Linked DNA regions of Homo sapiens: region 2 is reported to be linked to region 1. Evidence: microRNA targets listed by miRTarBase, many of them from high-throughput screens and not tested one by one. Region 1 holds a microRNA gene; the other region holds the end of a gene's coding sequence.
The links. The annotated mature microRNA hsa-miR-30d-5p reads UGUAAACAUCCCCGACUGGAAG and lies in region 1 at 1,796-1,817, opposite strand. An mRNA with a match to its seed (bases 2 to 7 or 8) in the 3' UTR can be bound and repressed. Matches are read on the target gene's strand: a 7mer-m8 pairs with bases 2 to 8, a 7mer-A1 pairs with bases 2 to 7 and ends in A, and an 8mer does both.

Region 1 (7,124 bases):
AGCTGGGCAGAGTATAACAGCTTTATTATAAAGAATGCCTACCCCCTCATTTAGCTTAGGTTTGGCCTTATCATTTTGAAAAACCTTTCAAATTTCACTGCATAAATTATGCATCCATCTTACTAAATTTTAAAGCAGTATATCAAAATTTTTCATAAGAAATAAACAGTGTCACCTGGTCAAACAAAATAATCCTATTACCACAGAACACATTACATTCTACCTTTGGCAGGGAAGACTTCTGAGCTCAGCAATAACTATCCTTTCACTGCTATTTGAGTCTAAGGTTTCCAATGTGCTAAAACAGAGGGCCACAGAATATGCAATAAATCTGCTTTATTTAGAGTTCATAGGAAGGGATGCTTGATGCATGCTAATCATCCAGCCTGAAAATTGTATTTACAAGTTGGAAAGCCACCTGAGTCTGAAGCAACTGACCCCCATCCCCAAATAAGTCTTATAAACTACTACTCTAACAAAAGAGCATTTAAAAAATAAAAGCTGTAGCACAAATACATCTGGGGTAACTACATTATGACCAAAACTGTCATTTGCTCATCTGGATAAAAGATAAGAGGCAACAGTAGACACTGCTGCAATAAGATAATATAAAATCATTACTAAAGTACTATACATGCAAGGTGCTTTACTTGCTGTTTATAACAGGAAAAAATAGAATTATCAAGATTTAATGTCTCTGACCTCAGAAAGCTTATAATCTAATCAAAGAAAATAAGCATGTAAATACATTAGATTGGCAAGACCTTTATCTTTTGGTGGTTTAATCATGTATGGAACCTAACATAGTATGTTTAGCAGTTTAATAAAAATAAATGATTTAAAAAAACCAATGCTTTATTGAAAAGAAAAATGCCAATAAAATAGAAATGTTTTCCAGTGTCTGAAAGACTAACAGAAATAAAATAACAATTTTTTAAAACTCAGAAAATAGTTGCTATAAAATTATACATTATCAATTAGTCCACACTGAGTGTCATCTGTGAGAAAAGCCCTGGATTATTCAGATCTGTGGGGAAACACAAAAAATAGATACAATACAGCTGCTTTCAGGGCAGCTATATTTTAAGGAGGAAGCAATAAATCTGAAAGCAACAATCTGAAAATACTTAGGAAAAATATTAATATAAAAAGACATGCATACCCATTAGCAAATGTAAACAGGCTTAGTGGCTTGACGTCTTGCAGTTTTTCTTAGAGGAGAGTTCTGATTAGGAGCTGTAATATCACTCAGGGTGAGGGGAACAGGAAGTGGGGGGCTAAGAGGACGGAGAAAAATGTTGCACACACATCTCTTTTAAGTATAGGGAAAGCTGAAATTTCTAGATTGCATACTGCTGGGTGGTAGTGATGAAATTATTCTCCAGAACTTCCACAGAATTTACAATGGAGAAAATCAGTCTCCTGAATTGTTGGGATGTTAAACTCCAGCCTACTTGGAAAGGTTATAAAGACTAAAATTTCATTGACAGGGCAGAAACAGGAATAGGCGGTGACACTTTTTATTTAACTAAATTCTCTAAGGCCCAGCAGCAGCACGCTAAGTCTGGGAAGCTCGAGACGGCATATCCTGTTATTAGGAGAGCACCCTACATTCAACTATCATAATACGTGCACTGTCAGTGCAGTAAAAGAATGCAGCTAAAGATTTCTGAGGTTTTCCCACACATTTTATAGCCTCCTCAACTCCACTCCGGGACAGAATTATATCAAGAGGATGTCTGTGAATAGCCGGTAGCAGCAAACATCTGACTGAAAGCTTAGCTGTGTCTTACAGCTTCCAGTCGGGGATGTTTACAACAACAGACTTTCTGAACAAGAAATTTAAGAGGAGGAACAGACATAAATGTTGCCAGTCATCATCTTCAGCTAATAATTTATATAATTTCTAGTGCTGAACAATAGCTGTGACATCTTGAAACAAAAATGATAAAGTTAATGCTAATAATTAAAGAGAAAGTGGTTCACCAAGTGCAATTTCTCCTAAATAAATCTAATTTTAAAAGAAAATACGCATTACAAATTTATCTTGGTAAGTATGAAACATTAAAGATATTACCCTGATATCCTACATGAGGATACATTTTTCCAACATATGCAAAAATAAGTTTTCTTCTCCCTAGAGTTTCAAAATAGTAAACACATTAGAATGATAACCCTAATGATCAGTGACCATACATTTCATGGATGCCTGCTGCCCTGACGTTATTGTTAAAAATGACTCCTTTTATTTAAAAAAGCGTTAATTTAGTTGACAATGAATAGAGTGGGTTTTCCTGGCAGAGGATCTAAACTGAGTAAGAATCTAACACTTTCTTCCCCTGTCTCCAGCTGATTTAGGTTAGGGATGTACAGTTCAAGGAAATGAGCAAAACAAAGAGGATAATAAAAGAAACTCATGATCTTAAATTTGTTTATAAGGCAATATACTAAAACCATTTTGTTTCCACACCACTTTTCTGAAAGAAAGGAAAAAGACTAAGTGAAATATAAGTAAATCTGCATTCCATCAAAAACCAAGATTTGCTTTAATTTAAAATATGTAAAATTGCCAGGCACAGTGGCTCATGTCTATAATCACAGCACTTTGGGAGGCCGAGGCAGGTGGATGGGTAGATCGCTTGAGTCCCGGAGTTCAAGACCAGCCTTGGGCTAAGTGGCAAAACCCTACCTCTAAAAACATACAACATATTAGCTGGGTGTGGTGGTGCATGCGGTCCCAGCTATTCGGGAGGCTGAGGTAAGAGGATCCCTGAGCTTGGGAGGTGGAGGCTGCAGTGAGCTGAGCTCATGCCACTGCACTGCAGCCTGGGCGACAGAGTGAGACCCTGTCTCAAAAAAAATAAAAATAAAAATAAAATAAAATATGTAAAGTAACCTTCTTTTGGGGAAAAAAACTATGAAAACAATTAAAGTCCACAATTAAGTCACAGTGATTTATGAAATGATTTAAGAAATGAACATACATACATACATGAGCATGCATATGTACACACACACTCTACAGAATAACTACTGAAGAAAACCAATATACAAATTCTGAGAGACTATTAATTTCCTAATACCAAATTTTTTGAGAAACTATGAGAAAAGGATTTCAGTTGCTGATATTTACCCTGTGATAATATTTAACGGTTGCTCTCTGAAATACTTTTTGTTTAATGTTGTAAATAACTCTACCCATTATATAAATAATGCTGGAAATAATGAGGAAAGTACATGTGGTCTCTATGGATACAAGATGACCTTCACTGTTTTTGAAGAAAAATACTTTTTTAAAAAGTCCAGTGGCTATTTACAACAACAACTATTCAAACTGTACTACAACTGAAACTTTCCAGATTTAAATCAGGAAAAAAATAGCTATTTCATGCCTAGGTAGGCACATGATACTTGACTAATGAGGATGCTGCACATTAAGTTGCAATAAACCAGTTACCACAAGTCTCCAAATCTCCCCTTTAATTTACCTTCCTGTCCTCAGTTTAATTTTTTTAAAGACTGATCAAAAGACATTTTTATCAGAGCCACTGTATTTAACTCACACAAACAATACATAGAATATTTTCTTCAGAGTTATGAAGGAATTTTGTCAAATGCTATGACTTTGTATAATATATTCTTGAGGAAACATGAAAATTAAATGTACAGAAGTTGAATATTAAGTATATGTGATAAGAAACCCTATTATAAAATACCTTCTATCATTATAAAGTATCTTCTAGACACAATCTTTGTAATAATACACAGTAAGAAGGTAAAGTCTAATGAGGGGATAGCTGAAGCTAAAGGTTTACCATTTTTGGCATGCTTTATGATTTCCATCTTTGTCAAAAACATTACATATTTGCGGGTCAATTTTCTATCAGCATTAGCATTTTACTTTTAACACATTTTTATAAAAATGGGCAAAACACACATGCATACATACAATCTGCTGTACAGACAAAAAAATGGATATTACTGAGCTACTGACTGGAACAGTGCTACTGGTTCAGTAACTGGAAATGTTTGTCAATCTATCAAAAGCAGTTTATGAATATCCATATATAATGTATGCCATGCCACATTTGCCACAGATTCTGTCCTACCACAGATGTCTCAAGTACAATGCTGAAACCAAGTTAGATACCTAAACACATCTCTTCCTATGTGACAATCCAGAACGAATACAAGCCATTATCTCCCAAGAGTATTGTTGTAAGAGAGTTTTACTGGGTTTATAAAATTTTACCAGAATACATAAGAAAACAATTAACAGGAAACAACATTTTGTAACTTAAGATAAATATTCTGGAAAAAAAACCCTCAAATGAAGTAAAATTCTGAATTGGCCTAGATTTCGCATCCCTTAAATCTATTAATTAGCTGAAATTCAGTGATGTCTAGGAAGGCTGTCAGAAATGGTTGGCTACAATTTGACTCTGAACTCTGAAATAAGGCAGGGCAGCTGGGAAGGTAAACACAAAGAGTAGTAGCAGGGTGGTGACAGGGAGAAAACACTTGGCAGAAGGCAAGAATTCACAAACCACCAGAAACCGACCATGGAGCAGAAAATGCCCCCAATTACATGGAAAAAAAAAAAAACAAAAAACACAGATACTCCCAAAGAGACTCTATTCTTGTTTTCAATCCATTCAATAATAATTACCATTCTCTATATATCCAATGTTAAATAAATAGAGCAGAGACAAAAAGAAAAAGAAAACATTATCTAAATTAATAAACTTAATCTACTTGAAAAATTTATAAAATAGAAGGGTGTTTAGGACAGAAAGATGAAAAGGCTTCCTGTTCTATAAGGCTTATTTATCATTTACTCATTATTACTAACTGCCCTTTGTAACAAAAGCTTCAAAGTGTTTTTATACATTTTCTCATCCTTATGCAGTAACTACTTTTAAGGGTAGTAGCAGAGCAGATGATAATTCTATTTTACAGATGAAGAAGAAGGTACAGATTGGAGAAACGATTTCGCTAAGCTCACATGAGTAAGGAGCTGAGAACAAATTGTGGTTTCCCTGACATGCACATGCACACATGCAGAAACGTATGTAGTATGTGTGTGGATGTGAACGCTAGGCCCTGGGAGAAACAAAGACGAGCAAGCCAAGGAGTCCAAGGAGGGCCTGTTCTGTGATTAACAATGCTCACTGCCTAGAAGGTTGAGACTAGGAGACCAGAGACTCAGCCTCCCAGGCTGCTGACTACCAGCTAGCTGTGGATTAGGAGCACAGCACTTACTCTTTTGCCTTTATTTTCTTGACACACAAAATGAGGCTTAGGCAAAACAATTTTAATTCAGTGGGAAAAATACCAAATCCTGATCAGGCAGGCCCACTATCTAGGAACAACCAAGTACCTGGTGACTCTGAAGACATCTAAGCCCAGCACAATGAAGTCTGTAAGATCGTAGCAAGAGTCACAGGGAATGGTAACGTCTGCAGTCCCATCTACTTTGCCGAATTCTGAAGACACCTGAAAACAACCAAATGGAACATGAAGATGAAAGCACTGTGAAACATACTGTCCAACAACAAAGTACACTTTAATCATCACCATGACATCTTATTTGTACCGCATGCTCACACCTTTTATGTAACTAGATTTTTACAGTGATAACTGAGAAGTAGGCAAGATGGGTACCATTATCCCTGCTAAACCCAGCTATAATCAGTTCTGCTATAATAATGAATATCTGCTTTCTGAAGTATCCATTTCAGATGTTGTGACTATAAGACTCAAATTAATTATCAAATCAAAGTTTGCCTAAGATACTATAAACAATCAAAATATATCCATACTGTGAAGGATTTGACAGCTAGACTGTTTTTAATCCTTCCCCTACTTCTGTCACCTCTAACAGGAGCACGTCTCTTCTTGTGCTGTATGAGCACAGTTCAGATACAAATACCCTTTGGTGTTATTGGTGCTTAGACCTGTGAGGCAGAGAAACACAGCTCCCCTTTCTCCACAATTCTGAACCAAGCATCATCATATACTCACACAGCACACAGCCTGATCTAGGCCAGTGGTTCTCAATGCACTCTCCTAACCAGCAGCGTCAGCATGGCTTAGGCAACTGTTACTAAAGTAATTCTCAGACCCCCACCACAGACCTACTCCATCCAAACTAGGGGGATGGGAGCCAGCAGTCTGTTTAACAAGTACTCCAGGTAATCCTGACCCATACAGAATCTTCAAAACCATTGATCTGAGCTTAGTCTATAGTCTCAATAACATGCCTAAAGCCTAATCAACAACACAGCCTTGCCGTTCGGGTGACCAGTTTTCCTAAATAGTATTTTAAGAAATTGTTCTGGTTTGTCCGGGACTGTGAGGGTTCCTTGGACAAGAGATTTTGAGTTTTAAAACCAGGACAGTCCTAGGCAAACAAGGATAATTTACCTTAATTGTGATTACAAATCAAAGCTGAAACAACTATTCACTTAAAATGGAGTGATGCTATTACAGACTAAATGCATATTGCATTTTGAGTGGAGGGCGATGGTAACATTAAAATCCTAGGATGCATGAATGGATAATTTTGTTTATCATGTCGGTAAACTGTCTGCATAGGAATGCTTCAAACCTAGAGGGGAGGTGAAGTGGGACAGTGCTTTGAACAAAAGGATCAACTACTTTTTATTAAACTATAGGGCATTCAGAATTTTTGTTTTCAAAATTCTCTGACCATAATTGAAACCGACAGTGAGTTGAATAGTAGCCAGTACCTTCCTAGATTCTTGAAACAGTGCCCACTCAAAGACCTAGGTCATAAATATAGTAAAATTTGTCACCACCAACACATAGAGCTAACTGAGTGTTAAGACCACTTAGAACAAGAGAATCTGAGTGGGTATGTAGCCCCACAGCACTCAGATAACTGAAAGGCAGAGATCCTAAACTCTGCTTTAGAGACTTAACTAAACACCATGAACTACACCCAAAACAAAACTGATAACCACTATAGATTCTATAGTGCGTTCCATGATTCATACATACAATAATACATTTAAATTTCCAAGAATCCTGGAGGGTAGCACTATATAAACGCAACCTACGTTTCAATAAGTATATTTAATTTTCAAAGTCCACACCTGGAG
Region 2 (7,124 bases), not on the chromosome of region 1:
ATGTCCTGTACTGTTACTAATACTTTAGTGTAAATCTGCGATGTGTCCCTGTGTAGGTAGGTCTTATAAAAAGGAGTTAGAAAGGTAAATGAATTAAAATACTAACACATATTTCTAAAATTAAACTTATTTAAAATTATATCTTTTTATATTGATGTTAAGAAATTTTTTAGGTAGGATAATAGTATGGTGATTTGTTTAAGTCTCTAGAAATAATGTATCAAAGTATTTATTGATGATATGGTATCTTGGAATTTCTTCAGAATCACCTGGGAAAGAGTAGTAGTTAGGGATGTAGATGAGACAGGATTAGATAAGATGTTCATTATTCATCTTTTGCTCTTGTTCTCTCTGCCTTGTAGCATGAAAGGTCTTTTTCATTTTTAATCCCTATTACTAGAATAAAACACAGAAACAGACAAACTAATGAAGTCTGTGGCAACAGGTCTGCCATAGGTTAATGTTTCAAGTAGCAGTATGTTTTTTGTGCTCTTAACTATTATTTTAGGTGATATAACTATTTTCCACTGTTAGCCTGTGGACTGTTAACTGTACATTCAAAAGGTAGTCCTGATGTATAGCAAAACATGAAAAGCACTGCATTACTGTGATAAAAGTGGTTCTGTTTTATGGGGAATAGTTGTTTGTTAATGACAGTGCAGTATTGACAAATTTATCTTCATGATGCCTCTTTTTCCATGGTTTTATTGTAATGAATCTTACTTTCTTGTTCTAGGCTGCTGAAAATATGACAAGCTGACTTTCTGGAGAAATTCTGATGAGATATGTCAAGCTCTGCAAGAGGGTTTGAAGATTGCATTGTAGTTGAGAATGTACAATGAAATTACTGCATGCAGCAGTGTAGAAAAATTTTACTTTTTAAAAGAATTATAAAACCATAGCTTTATAAATCAGTGGAAAGTGGCTTACAGAGAGAACTATCAGATGTGTTTACATCACATCTTATTCACTTTTTTTAACAGCTCTAATGCTTTGGCATTGCTATGTTCATATTTATGTATTCCTTATTTATAGCTCTGATAGCTTTAATTTTCTAAGCAGTCTGTCTATCAGATGTGCACATCTGCTGTGCCAGGTTGAAGTATAGTGGAACCCATCAGTAGTAATGTGTAGTAGTTATGACTTGTTGACATTTCCATTATAAACTTTAATTTTGAATTGTTTATGCATTATAACTGTGGATTTATATTGTATTGGGCTGAAAGTTGACAGGATTTCAGCCACCACTTGTGAATTTTTATTTAGATTCATTATGTATATCAGAATCTTGTTTTTTGAAATAAGAGCATGGAAAACATTTCTTGTAATCTACTCTTGAACAAAGAATATTTAGTTTTTCAAACAGTTTGTTGGGCAGCTAATAGTGTGAACCAGGTCATTTTTGTATTGAGTAAAAAAATCAAACTTTGAGAAACTTGGATTTTAAAAGTAATGACAATGCTTAGGTTAGTATTATTTGTAATTTGAATCATTTACATCTAATGAGAATGTTAGTTGAGAATGTTTTCTTAAAGTTTTATATCCTATAAATAACGGAATAAAAAAATTTGTAAAATGAAACAACAAACATGCAAAATTCCTATTTACTTTTATTACATAAAAGTAATTTTAGTGCTTACCTAATAAATCTTGAATGGTTATTTAATAAATTATTAGATGGGTGATGTGTTTCAAAAGATACTTGCTATTTTTTGAAGAAATAAGGATTTCCAGTCATTAAACAAAACTAAACAATCTTATTAGATGGGTGATGTGTTTCAAAGGATACTTGCTATTTTTTGAAGAAATAAGGATTTCCAGTCATTAAACAAAACTAAACAATCAAATGTTCTATATTAGGAATCTCAAGTATGGCTTTTTTTAAAAAACCTTTTTAACATCTTGATGTCAAGGATTATAAGTATGGCTTTTCAGAATTGTTTTGTTTGTCATTATTCTTGCCTTTAAAATTTTAACTCATCAAAGTGAAGATTAGAAATAAATTTTAGAAAATGTAGAATAGTATTGATTCTGTTCCTGTAATAGAATCTCAGTGGAGTTTTTTTGCAAAACTAATATGGATTTCATCTGATTTTATTATTTCTTAAATTTTAGATTTTATTGAGTACCATTTATATGATTGTACAAGCATTCACTCTTTACTAGCATTTTTTGTTTTTCAGACAAGCTGAAGTGGTTTTATTAAGATTTGGTAATATTTAAATAGCAACCTTCTCTGCCTTTTTTTTTTTTTAATATAGAATTTTGACCATTTTGACTTTTTAAATGCCTGGCATCTTTACCAACCAAGTAAACTGGAAGATCTGTTACTGGTAGAACAGGTTGAGGAGACAGTAGGAATTTGTAAAAAGTCATTTGATTTATAATCAACACTACAAATACTATGTGTTATTTATAAAATCATAAAGAACACTTTTGTCAGACTCCAAAATTTGTATATACTTCCAGGCCATAAGAGTTGATAGTATTATTTATGACTTTGTAGATTAAGTTATTTATGTATGAAACAAAGCAGGAAAATATATTGAGAAGGGATCGTGTTTACAGAGGACTTCTTTAAAGTGTCACATTTTTAAAATGTAAACATATTTTTAATGCATACTTAAGTAATATTTAAGAAACTAAACAAAATAATGATACAATTGCAGTGTTGTGCTTGTTGTCAATGACAAAAATAAAACCATTTTGGTGGTATTGGCCTGTACTTTTGTTTTAATATATGCTTTTGTTAATTCAACTTGTGTTTCTATAGGACAAAAGATACAGAACATAAAATTTACCATTTTAACCTTTTTTTTTTTTTTTTTTTGAGATGGAGTCTCACTCTGTCACCCAGGCTGGAGTGCATTGGCATGATCTTGGCTCAATGCAGCCTCCGCCTCCTGGGTTCAAATGATTCTCCTGCCTCAGCCTCCCGAGTAGCTGGGATTACAGGCACCTGCCACCATACCTGGCTAATTTTTTGTATTTTTAGTAGAGGCGGGGCTTCACCATGTTGGCCAGGCTGGTCTCAAACTCCTGACCTCAGATGATCTGCCTGCCTCAACCTCCCAAAGTGCTGGGATTATAGGCATGAGCTACAATGCCCTGCCCTTTTTAACCATTTTTAAGTTTCATAGTTCAGTGACATTCAGAATATTCTTATTGTATTGTAACTATCACTATTGTCCATCTCTTGAACTTTCTTATCCCAAACTGAAACTCTGTACCTGTTTAGCAGTAACTCCCCATTGCTTCCTCCTCCCAGCCCCTGGTAAACAGTTTCCTACTTTTTTGTCAATGAATTTGACTATTCTGGATACCTCATATAAGTGGAATCATATTTGTCCTTTTGTGTTCGTCTTATTTTACACAGCACGTCTCCAAGATCTATCCATGTTATAACATGTATCCAGATTTCCTCTTTAAGGATGAATATGTCTCATATATACATGGGAGACAGGTATTCTTTTATATATATGGTGGACATTTGGGTTGTTTCTACCTTTTGTCTATTCTGAAAAGGCTATTCACAATAGCCACAATGTTATGGGCATTGGTATACAAATAACTGTTCAGGTCCTTGTCAGTTCTTTGGAGTGTATACCCAGCAGTGGAATTGCCAGCTTTTAAACATTTTTTTTTAAGTTTAACTTTAATTCCATAGGCATTAGAGAAAGAAGGGGACATGGTCAAGCTTTTTTTGGGAGTTGCTTTGCTAGTGACATGTAGGCTTGATTTGAGCAGGGAGAGGTTAGAAGCAGAGACTAGTTAGAACACTACTGAGTAACCCAGGCCTCAATGCTCACATCTGGGTAGATTCAAGAGACATTACAAAAAATAAACATAGGACTTAATGGCAGGTTATGGGGAAAATAGAAAAGAAAATAAGGTGACTGAGTTTCTAAGCCTGGGTAACAAAGATATTATCAGCAAATGGAAATCAAGAAGGGAATATAATTTTCCTGGAAAAAAATGATTTTTATTTAAAGAGTATTGTGTTTAACATATATATTAAATCTTAAACCTTGCCAATCTTCCAAAGACCATTGCCCATCTCCATTTTTTTTTGTCCTACAGCATTACCACTCTCTAACATAGTATACAATTTACTTAGTTTTATCTATTAATATAAACAAATATACCTCTACCTGAAAGTCCCACAGGGGCGGGGATATTTCTGTGTTGCCACTGGTGTATCTTAAGTGTCTTGAACAGTGCCTAGCACATAAGAAATGCTCAATAAATACATGTTGGCTGAATGAATGGATAGACTGGGCATCCAGGAAACAACATGTACCACGTGGTTGAAAATAACTAACATTGAGAACTTGCTGCATGCAAGGCACTGGTTTTGGTGCTTTTAATAGATCAAATTGTTTAACCTTTAGGCTTACAGCAACCACGAGAGATAGATAGCATCATCCTATTATAGGTCAGGAAGCTGAGGCACAAAGTGGTATACAACTTAAATCTCAGAAGTGGTAGAGCCAGGATTTGAACCCTGGTAAATTGAGTCTGGAGCCCACACACCTTAGTGCCTGTTACTATACATCATCTCATGGGATGAAGAGGCACAACTGGAGAGGAAGATGAAGGAGATTGAAAATCAGATGGCCAAAGTGGTAGTCGAAGCTCTGGATGTAGATGCTGAGAATTTAATAGAAGACTAGTGACAGATGCTTCTCTTTCCCAGGATTGTCCCATTCTTAGGGAATATACCATTGATGATGGTAGGTTGGTGAAGTTTTGTAGCATCTCAGCAGATCTATATTACTGCTTTTTAATTACAACAATGTAAATAAATAACAGGTTAAAGTCATTCCCTTTCCAGAGGTGCTATACTTGAGAAACCCAGTTCTAACAACAAAAAGATCTCTCTTTTATGAAGTTCACTGTTGGGCTCATATATACCAGACTGGAGTATTGTAAATGTTGTAAAAAAGATGGTGCATGTGGTACTCACTTTGGCAGCACATACACTAAAATTGGAACGATACAGCAAAGATTAGCATGGCCCCTGCACAAGGATGACACACAAATTCGTGAAGTGTTCCATATTTTTAATTGCTTCAAAGAGAATAAAATACCTAGGAATCCAACTTAGAAGGGATGTGAAGGACCTCTTCAAGGAGAACTACAAATCACTGCTCAACGAAATAAAAGAGGACACAAACAAATGGAAGGACATTCCATGCTCATGGAAGAATCATGAAAATGGCCATACTGCCCAAGGTAATTTATAGATTCAATGCCATCCCCATCAAGCTACCAATGACTTTCTTCACAGAATTGGAAAAAACTACCTTAAAGTTCATATGGAACCAAAAAAGAGCACACATTGCCAAGACAATCCTCAGCCAAAGGAACAAAGCTGGAGGCATCACGCTACCTGACTTCAAACTACACTACAAGCCTACAGTAACCAAAACAGCATGGTACTGGTACCAAAACAGAGATATAGACCAATGGAACAGAACAGAGCCCTCAGAAATAATGCTGCATATCTACAACCATCTGATCTTTGACAAACCTGACAAAAACAAGAAATGGGGAAAGGATTCCCTGTTTAATAAATGGTGCTGGGAAAACTGGCTAGCCATATGTAGAAAGCTAAACTGGATCCCTTCCTTACACCTTATAGAAAAATTAATTCAAGATGGATTAAAGACTTAAATGTTAGACCTAAAACCATAAAAACCCTAGAAGAAAACCTAGGCAATACCATTCAGGACATAGGCATGGGCAAGGACTTCATGTCTAAAACACCAAAAGCAATGGCAGCAAAAGCCAAAATTGACAAATGGGATCTAATTAAACTAAAGAACTTCTGCACGGTAAAAGAAACTACCATACAGTGAACAGGCAACCTACAGAATGAGAGAAAATTTTTGCAATCTACTCATCTGACAAAGGGCTAATATCCAGAATCTACAAAAAACTCAAACAAATTTACAAGAAAAAACAACCCCATCAAAAAGTGGGCAAAGGATATGAACAGACACTTCTCAAAAGAAGACATTTATGCAGCCAACAGCCACATGAAAAAATGCTCATCATCACTGGCCATCAAAGAAATGCGAATCAAAACCACAATGAGATACCATCTCACACCAGTTAGAATGGCGATCATTAAAAAGTCAGGAAACAACAGGTGCTGGAGAGGATGTGGAGAAATAGGAACACTTTTACACTGTTGGTGGGACTGTAAACTAGTTCAACCATTGTGGAAGACAGTGTGGTGATTCCTCAAGGATCTAGAACTAGAAATCCCATTTGACCCAGTCATCTTTACTGGGTATATACCCAAAGGATTTTAAATCATGCTACTATAAAGATGCATGCACACATATGTTTATTGCGGCACTATTCACAATAGCAAAGACTTGGAACCAACCCAAATGTCCATCAATGATAGACCGGATTAAGAAAATGTGGCACATACACACCATGGAATATTATGCAGCCATTAAAAAGGATGAGTTCATGTCCATTGTAGGTACATGGATGAAGCTGGAAACCATCATTCTCAGCAAACTATCTCAAGGACAGAAAACCAAACACCGCATGTTCTCACTCATAGGTGGGAACTGAACAATGAGAACACTTGGACACAGGAAGGGGAACATCACACACTGGGGCCTGTCCTGGGGTGGGGGGAGGGGGTCGGGTAAAGCATTAGGAGATATACCTAATGTAAATGACGAGTTAATGGGTGCAGCACACCAACATGGCACATGTATACATATATAACAAACGTGCATGTTGTGCACATGTACCCTAGAACTTTAATTAAAAAAAAAAAAAAAAAAAAAGATGGTGCATGTGACAGCCCTAAATAGCAGTCTCAGGAAATCTGTTAACAAGTGACACTGTCCATTAGAATAGGGCAGAATTTTTTTTTTTTTAGCAGTCCAGAGGTCTTTTATTTTAACACCTATTGTGCCATGAACTTATAGGGAATAGGCTCCAGCAGCTCAGACTCCTTCCCATTGGTTCTCACAAAGTGTGCTTCTCTGGGTGGAGCAGGCTGGCACTTCAGTTGCACCCAGGTACCTTTCTCTTTGGCTTCTTTTTCTGATAATTTTCCTTCACATGTTTCAAGAAGCTGTCTCAACTCTTAG

Region 2: the mRNA of MZT1 is a reported target of hsa-miR-30d-5p. Seed matches in the 3' UTR shown: 8mer at 949-956 and 8mer at 2,560-2,567.

The regions. Positions count from the first base shown.
Region 1 is chr8:134,803,124-134,810,247 of GRCh38, forward strand. MIR30D (microRNA 30d) reads right to left here and starts at 1,822; the gene lies at 1,753-1,822. It also overlaps a transcript of ZFAT not described here.
Region 2 is chr13:72,703,958-72,711,081 of GRCh38, reverse strand. MZT1 (mitotic spindle organizing protein 1) reads left to right here. Exons shown (of 3, transcript NM_001071775.3): 3 at 737-2,715. The coding sequence ends at 760. It also overlaps the pseudogene RPL21P110 and the pseudogene RNU6-80P. Among named protein-coding and RNA genes, the nearest start is that of MZT1, 20 kb to the left of the region's middle.